Homo sapiens: one gene and its partner. The protein of the gene in region 2 purifies or fractionates together with the protein of the main gene of each other region. This does not show direct contact. Each region holds a gene or a part of one and is shown on either strand. Other genes may lie near its edges.

Evidence for each region. The genes of interacting proteins can lie anywhere in the genome.
Region 1: the proteins of CBR3 (region 2) and SGK1 purify together in Homo sapiens (co-immunoprecipitation; one large-scale study listed by IntAct). This does not show direct contact.

Annotation. Positions count from the first base shown.
Region 1 is NC_000006.12:134,311,613-134,315,112, reverse strand, and holds part of SGK1 (serine/threonine-protein kinase Sgk1), read left to right. Parts: intron 1-3,500. UniProt on the Homo sapiens protein: Serine/threonine-protein kinase which is involved in the regulation of a wide variety of ion channels, membrane transporters, cellular enzymes, transcription factors, neuronal excitability, cell growth, proliferation, survival, migration and apoptosis.
Region 2 is NC_000021.9:36,137,089-36,142,611, forward strand, and holds part of CBR3 (carbonyl reductase [NADPH] 3), read left to right. Parts: intron 1-736; coding exon 737-844; intron 845-4,307; exon of another isoform or gene 4,308-4,835; coding exon of another isoform or gene 4,836-4,876; exon of another isoform or gene 4,877-5,056; intron 5,057-5,523. UniProt on the Homo sapiens protein: Catalyzes the NADPH-dependent reduction of carbonyl compounds to their corresponding alcohols. Has low NADPH-dependent oxidoreductase activity.

The DNA of each region.
Region 1 (3,500 bases), on a different chromosome or scaffold from region 2:
TGTAAATACATCTATAAAACATTAAAACAATAATAAGGTATATCCCACCTCCTCTCCAATCTTTCTCCCTTTCCCAGATGTAGTAACTGTTACCATACTGATGTTTATACTTTCCAAACTTTTACTTCACATACACATTCATATACTACAATGCCTTTGTTTGCAGTTCAGAATAATTCATTTTCTTATATTCTATTGTTGAAGTTCCACACATTTCTGCATATTTTATTTTTAACCTAGCTAGACAGTCTTACAAAGTGAACCTTTGTCCATAGCCCACATTAAACTATGAATAGATTTTGGAAAAAAAAAAAAAAAAACCATAGGGTCTATTAGGGCTAATTAAAAAGAATGATTTTTGATTGCAGGAGGCTTAAACAGTGCTTCCTATGCTTCTGAGACATTCCAGAGGGAGCATAAGAAACTGAAGGAGAATATAGGTTATCTGCCCTTGTAGCTGTCTGTCAGTCACTATTTATTAGAGCTGACTATGTTCTGGGTAGGAATGCTTTACATGTATTAGCTCATTTAATATTCACAGTAACCCTATAAGGTAAGAAACATTATTAAATGTGCAAAGTGTGACTTAGAGAGATTAAACCATTCGCCCAAGGTCACATAACTAAAAAGTAGCAGAGCTAAAATTTAAACCTTGTTCAACTCAAAGCTTGTATACGTAATCCAGACTTTTTGATTTCAGACCACTCTCCCCTTCTTTTCTTTTAGTTTCCACAACAGACTCTTCTGTCCCCCTACCCCCCTCCCCCAACCAAGTGAAATCTTTATGCCACTACCAAAAACCTATAAAAGCGGCCAAGCCTCTTCCAGCTCCTTTCTAGTCCTTAATACTGACAGTAATGAGAGGCTGCCCTGGGGAACCCAGATTCTAGGAACATAATCTGAAGAAAGACAGTCCGGATGCTAGTTCTACAAAATCCTTTGGATTTATGCTTCTCATCCTCATATTTTAAAAGCTCAACTAAAGCAGCTTAATTTCATTTAGCAGAGAATTGCTGAACTAAACTGGATAAGAGTTCTACTTTCATTCTTTAAGTGTTCATGATAAATTAGCATTAGATGTATATGGATTATATTTTACTCTTAAGAGTCTCCAAAAATTCATTTAAGATGAATGGAAAAATGTCCTTATCAGTTTTATTCTCCCAATCCAAGAGTTTTAAAAGTTGTCAGTCCAGCTAAAGGTAATCCATTTTCATGGATTTAAAGATTTGTTCTGTTTGTGGCTCAGATTCTTACATAATGATTTAGAAAACGCAAACAAATGACATTGTCTCCAACTCGATAATCCTTTTTGGAAATACACAAGGTATGTGAAAAAAACTTCCATAGCCATGATTACATTACCTTTTGTAAAATTCGAAAGGCTATCTAACGCTGCAGAATTTTGGATGTGGAATGAACCTCAGAAATTCTCCCTCTGACTTCCCTCTTTCAAAGATGAGGAAACTGAGTACCTGTGGTAAATCACCTGTCAAATTAGAATGAGGTTAAGCCAGGACTCATGTTTTGGGTTTTCACTTCCAGATCTCGTGTGCTTTCCTTTTTGCTAAGTTCTCAACATCAAACTAGTCAAGTCTTTCATGCCTCATTCATTCATTTTTCAACAAATAGAGTAGGAACAAAATAACCATGTTTTATCTTCATGAAACTAACGGCATAGTGACTACCAACTTTGACAAGACCGTTCCATTTTGACTCTGTATTTTTGTTGTTGTTATTTTTGTTTGTTTGTTTGGTTGGTTGGTTGTTTGCAGAGACAAGGTCTCACTATGTTGCCCTGGCTGGTCTCGAGTTTCTGGGCTCAAGGGAGCGTCCCAAAGTGTTGACATTTCAGGTGTGAGCCACCCACTGTGCCCAGCCTTGACTCTCTATTTTATGATTATATGCATTTGAACAATTCCTTGCATTATTCTTTAATAACAGTAGCTTTTCTAATAACTATGACTTAAATGGCATTAATATTGCTGGGCATGGTTCTAAGAGCTTTAAGTACATTACACATTTAAATCATCATACACAGGCTGGGCGCGTTGGCTCACGCCTGTAATGCCAGAACTTTGGGAGGGTTAGGCAGGCAGATCACTTAAAGTCAGGAGTTCGAGACCAACCTGGCCAACGTGGTGAAACCCTGTCTCTACTAAAAATACAAAAATGAACCAGGTGTGATGGCAGGCGCCCATAATCCCAGCTACTCAGGAGGCTGAAGCAGGAGAATCGCTTGAACCAGGGAGGCGGAGGTTGTAGTGAGCTGAGGTCTCGCCACTGCACTCCAGCTGGGATGACAGAGTGAGACTCCATCTCAAGGAAAAAAAAAAATTATCATATATAAAAATACCTGAGATAGGTACTTTTATTATTGTGATTTCATAGATGAAGAAACTGAGGTGTACAGAAGTTGAAGAACTTGCCCCAAGTCACATAGCTAGTTAGTGACAGGATCAGGGTTTGGATCCCAGCACCAGGCTCCAGAGTCTGTGTCCTTAATCTCTATACATCCCGAATGCCTGTCAACATTAAATAATCCAGGGTGAAGTTCAGAGAAGTGAAATGATATGACTTCTCTGGCCTCCTCCTTTCTCTAATAACTGCAGGAACAAAGGAAAGGTTTTTAGTCTGGTTACAATGTTTACTCTAGCAGAGCTGAGAAGTTAAATTAAGCTCCTCTGAAGTGCTTATTCTTCACAACTATTTCATAAACAGCATCCCTTTACATTTGTTTTCCTTTTACTGTTCTATTTTGCCTGCTTAAAGTATCCAAATTGGAATAACAAAGGCCCTTTTCTTATGGGAAACTTTCGATGTCTTCTCAGAGGGATAACATTATTGAGCAGCACCGTTCAAAGCACTTTACTCAGGTAACTCTCACAATCCTTCATTATGCCCATTTTATAGCCAAGGAAACTGAGGGTCAGAGGTTAACTGATTTGTTAAAAATCGTAGACCTAGGAAGAGGTATAGCCAGAATTCAAATTCAGGTAGTTCGTTTACCAGCAGCAGTCTTTCCATTTGCGTCACTGGAGTGCACTGCGATGATGCCAATACTGTTGCAGGATTGGCTCTACTGAATTGGAAACTACTTGTGAAGACAACCCAAAGAGGTGTTTTGTTGTTGTTGTTGTTGATGTTGTTATAGCCTTAGCTATGAAGAGGTAGATTCTCCAAGTCACTACTGAGAGCGGTAGGAATGCTTTCTAACAAATCTGAAGTCTGCTTTAGATTTTTTCAAGATATGTTTGATCATGCTTCCCGGAACACGGCGGAGACTCCAGTGGCTGCTACTGTGCTTTCTTCGGAATGGCTAAAATCTAAGCTGTTTGAGTTCCTCTTGAGCCTGCGCCCACAACACAGCACATGGTCCCAGTGACACTGCATTGTTACATTAGTACTGCTTATTCCTCTGTAGCTCCCACAGGGCAGGAAGGTTTTTTGTTTTGTTGTTTTTTCATACAGTCTCACTCTGTCACCCAGGCTGGAGTGCA
Region 2 (5,523 bases):
CGCACCTTTAAGTTTAAGAAGTGGTAGTCAAAGCCAAGTGTTCTCAAGGTGTGGCTGGAGACCAGTAGCTGTCACATCATCTGGGAACCTAGAAATGCAAACTCAGGCCAGGTGCGATGGCTCACGCCTGTAATCCCAGCACTTTGGGAAGCCGAGGCGGGTGGATCACATGAGGTCAGGAGTTGGGGACCAGCCTGGCCAACATGGCGAAACCCTGTCTCTGCAAAAAGTAAAAAAATTAGCTGGGTGTGGTGGCATGTGCCTGTAATCCCAGCTACTCCAGAGGCTGAGGCAGGAGAATCACTTGAACCCAGGAGGTGGAGGTTGCAGTGAGCCGAGATCGCGCCACTGCACTCCAGCCTGGGTGACAGAGGAAGAAAAGAAAGAGAAAGAAAGAAAGAAAAGAAAAGAAAGAAAGGAAGGAAGGAAGGAAGGAAGGAAGGAAGGAAGGAAGGAAGGAAGGAAGGAAGGAAAGAAAATGCAAATTCTGGAGCCCTTACTCCAGCCCTTTGCAATCAGAAACTCCAATGGTGAGGCCCAGGAAGCTGTGTTTTAACAGGCTCTACAAGTGATTCGGATGCAGACTAAAGTTTGAGAATCACCGACCTCGTTCTTAAAAATTGTTTTAAAATTAACTTGTTTTTCCTTTAGTTGTTAGGAGTTAGGATCCACTTTGTCATGTGAGTTTCAGGGGGAAAAATATGACTTTCTTTTTGTTTCTTTCTCTTTTTGAAAGGTGATGATCCAATGCCCTTTGACATTAAAGCTGAGATGACACTGAAGACAAATTTTTTTGCCACTAGAAACATGTGCAACGAGTTACTGCCGATAATGAAACCTCATGGTAAGCCCAACGTGTGGACAGTCGGGTTGCATCCCTCAGTAAGAAGTGGGCTACAGGCTTCCCGGAGCAGGGCTACCCTGCAGAAATCACTCAGGGGTGCTATTTCTCTGAAGGGGGAAAAATAGAAAATTGCTTCATTTTCCCACAGTGTTTGGCTTCTCACTCCAACATTTTAGTTTAGTTTAGTTTAGTTTAGTTTAGTTTTGTTTTGTTTGGCAGTGGGGTGGGTGGTGGGAAGAAATTTTGCTCTTGTTGTGCAGGCTGTAGTGCAATGGTGTGATCTTGGCTCACTGCAACCTCCACCTCCCGGGGTCAAGCAATTCTCCTGCCTCAGCCTCCCGAGTAGCTGAGATTACAGGCACCCACTACCACACCCGGCTAATTTTTTATATTTTTAGTAGAGACGTGGTTTCACCATGTTGGCCAGGCTAGTCCTGAACTCCTGACCTTCAGGTGATCCACCCACCTTGGCCTCCCAAAGTGTTAGAATTACAGGCGTGAGCCACTATGCCCAGCCTTAGCTTTAAGTTCCAAAGATAAGTGTGACATATCACAATGCTTTTGGGATCCATGTCATGAACTCAATCCTAGAATGATAGAATGCTGTGAGTCCCCAAAGGCCGCTTGCCTCTGGTCAATCTCATGAGTCCTCCAGCCCTCCAAGGTGATGGGCCCACATCTAGCTCATCTCTGGACCTTGGTATCTGTTTTAGCATTACAACTTTTCCTATATTCCTTTCTTCTTATACCATACTTTCTCAAGTTGATTCAGAAAACCCAAAAGAAATTTTCTTTTCTTTTTTTTTCTTTTCTTTTTTTTTTTTTTTTTTTGAGACAGAGTCTCGCTCTGTCATCCAGGCTAGAGTACAGTGGCACAATTTCGGCTCACTGTAGTCTCCGCCTCCCAGGTTCAAGCGATTCTCCTGTCTCAGCCTCTGGAGTAGCTGGGATTACAGGTGTGCACCACCACGCCCAGCTCATTTTGTATTTTTAGTACAGATGGGATTTCACTATGTTGGCCAGGCTGGTCTCAAACTCCTGACCTCAAGTGATCCACCCACCTCTGCCTCCCAAAATGCTGGGATTACAGGTGTGAGCCACCATGCCCGAACGAGAAATTTTCTTTATTAGGAAATGTCTTGCCTATACCTGCAGGTATTCAATAAATGTTACTATTATACTTTTCCTACAAACATTGGAGTGCCTGCCATATTCCAGGCATTATGCTGGGATCTGGGTGTGCAATGGTGAGCATTATAGACAGGGACCATCTCATTGGTGGAGCTGAAACTCTAGTGGGGGAGATATCCATTAGCAAAGAATCTGAAGTGTGAAATGACAGCTGTGCTGGGGTACAGGGAAGCTTGCTTCCTTGAGGATTTTATTCCCCAAGAAGTTAACTGTGGATTCTTAGAACTGTGGTTTTTATTAAAAATGTGCTTGCTTTTTCTTTTTTTTTTTTTTTTTTTGACAGAGTTTCGCTCTGTTGCCCAGGCTGGAGTGCAGTGACAGGATCTCAGCTCACTGCAACCTCCACCTTCTGGGTTCAAGGGATTCTCCTGCCTTAGCCTCCTGAGTAGCTGGGACTACAGGCGTGTGCCGCTACGCCCGGCTAATTTTTATATTTTTAGTAGAGACAGGGCTTTGCCATGTTGGCCAGGCTGGTCTCGAACTCCTGACCTCAAGTGATTCATCTGCCTCAGCCTCCCAAAGTGCTGGGATTACAGGTGTGAGCTACTGCACCTGGCCAGAAGTGTGCTTTTCTTAATTTAACATTTCGAATATGGATTATTGGCCGGGTGTGGTGGCTCATGCCTGTAATCTCAGCACTTTGGGAGGTTGAGGCAGGAGGATCACTTGAGCCCACGAGTTTAAGACCAGGCTGAAAAATATGGCAAGACCCTCATCACTTTAAACAAACAAACAAAATTATCTCTGGATGCAAAACCTTTTTTTTTTTTTTTTTTTTTTCTGAGACAGAGTCTCCCTCCGTCGCCCAGACTGGAGTGCAGTGGCATGAGCTCAGCTCGCTGCAACCTCCGCCTCTCAGGTACGAGAGATTCTCCGCCCCAGCCTCTCAAGTAGCTGGGTTTACAGGCGAGCACCACCACGCCCAGCTAATTTTTTTGTATTTCTAGTAGAGACAGGGTTTCACCATGTTGGCCAGCTTGATCTCGAATTCCTGACCTCAGGTGATCCACCCGCCTTGGCCTCCCAAAATGCTAGGATTACAGGCTTGAGCCACCGCACTCAGACGCAAAAAGTTCTTAACCTAAGAAGGTGAATGGTGAGAGTTGCACTTGTACTCTGTCAGTTTCTGAGTGGGATGAGATCATAGAAAGCCTGCAGGGAGAACTGCAGGTGCTTTGAAGGGGATGGAGTTTCTAAATGCAAATCTGAGCCAATATAAACGCACATTTTAAAAACTCTCCTTTTTACACAGAAGGTAACATTTCATACAATGTTTGCCACTTTGCTTTTTTTACTCCTTATGTCTGGGGCTCTCTCCAGGTTTGGTCAGAAAGCTTTTATCTTTTTTGTGGCTATATAGGGACGCAGCCATTATAGGGATGTCTTTTACCCAGTGTTGGGAAGTTTTCTCCCGATAAATTTTTGAATGGGAACTTGAGAGCTGCAAGGTATTAAGACACCTTTAAAACTCCATCCCCTTCCAGAGCACCTGCAGTTCTCCCTGCAGGCTTTCTCTGATCCCATCCCACTAAAAAACTGAGCAAGTACAAGAGTACAAGTGCAATTCTCACCATTCACCTTTTTAGGTTAAGAAGTTTTTGTGGCCGGGCACAGTGGCTCACACCTGTAATCCTAGCACTTTGGGAGGCCAAGGCAGGCAGACCACGAGGTCAGGAGATCGAGACCATCCTGGCTAACACGGTGAAACCCCATCTCTACTAAAAATACAAAAAAATTAGCCAGGCATGGTGGTGGGCACCTGTAGTCCCAGCTAGTCGGGAGGCTGAGGCAGGAGAATGGCATGAACCCGGGAGGCGGAACTTGCAGTGAGCCCAGATCGCGCCACTGCACTCCAGCCTGGGCGACAGAGCCACACTCCATCTCAAAAAAAAAAAAAAAAAAAGAAAGAAAGAAAGAAAAGAAAATATCATAAGAATGGACTTAATCCTGAGCAACATATGGAGACCCCAGCTCTACACAAAAAATGAAAATTAAAAATTAGCTGGGCATAGTGGCATGTTCCAGCTTCTCGAGAGACTGAGGTGGGAGGATCGCTTGGGCCCAGGAGGTTGAGGCTGCAGTGAGCTATGATTGTGCCACTGTACTCTAGCCTGGGCGACAGAGCAAGTCCTTGTCTCAAAAAAAAAAAAAAATGCATTTAACGCATCTGACCTACCAAACACCATAGGTCAGCCTCGTCTAGCTTCAAGGTGCTTTGAACGCTTACATTAGCCTATAGTCTGGCAAAGTCATCTAACACAAAGCCTATTTTATCATAAAATGTTGAGTATCTTATGTAATTTATTGAATCTGTACTGAAAGTGAAATGCAGAATGGTTGTATGGGGCCTCCAAGTACAGATTCTGCAGAATGCATATCGCTTCCTCATCCATCAGTGAAGTCAGTAAGTCCTAAGTGGAACCATCAGAGGGCAGGGACCATCTATCTGTATTTGACTTGCTTATTTGTTCAAGGTTCTGAGTCAATAGGACAAGCAACTACTAAGCCACTAGAGGGCGCAACTTGCCTACTCTTTCTAGAGTAAGGCAGCAGGTGTTTCGGGACCGGTGGGGCCACCTGGACCTCAGTGGAGGGTGGTGTGGGTGCAGCCCTTCCCAGGGCTGATGACGCATCTGGCTGACGAGGCTGACTGTCAGCCTCTGGCCTCTCTCCCAGAGGTGTGCCCTCAGATCAAAGAGGACACCTCCTCCCCTTAAGAGGATTTATTTCCTCGAAGGCACAGCTTCTATGATCTGTGTTTTTCTTTCTTCCTTTCCCATTCACATTTAATTCCTTGTAGCCGCCAAGTTTCTGAGAACAAAGCTGTTTAGAAAGCAATGAAGAACACAACATCACTGATGTAGTATTCCTGGCCAAAATATTGATGTGACTCTCCTCATGAGAACAGACCAATTCACTTTGAGAGAAATACTACAAAATAATGGTCTACAGTCTTCAAAAAAGTCATTGCCAACTACCTTACATTAAAATATATGAAAGAGATGTGACAATTAAATGCAATCCATGGGCCAGGTGCGGTGACTCACGCCTGTAATCCCAGCACTTTGGGAGACCAAGGCGGGCGGATCATGAGGTCAGGAGATTGAGACTATCCTCGCTAACACGGTGAAACCCCGTCTCTACTAAAAATACAAGAAATTAGCCAGGCATGGTGGCAGGCGCCTGTAGTCCCAGCTACTTGGGAGACTGAGGCAGGAGAATGGCATGAACCCGGGAGGTGGAGCTTGCAGTGAGCCGAGATCACGCCACTGCACTCCAGCCTAGGTGACAGAGCGAGACTCCATCTCAAAAAAAAAAAAAAAAACGCAATCCATGATCCTACTTTGGACCCTGGATTAAAGCAAACAAAAACTGTAAAAGAACATTACTGGGACAATTTGGACACATTTGAATATGGGCTGTATTTTAGATAATAGTGTTGTATAATGATAAATGCCTGGCATGTGGTCATAACTGTAGTAATGTAG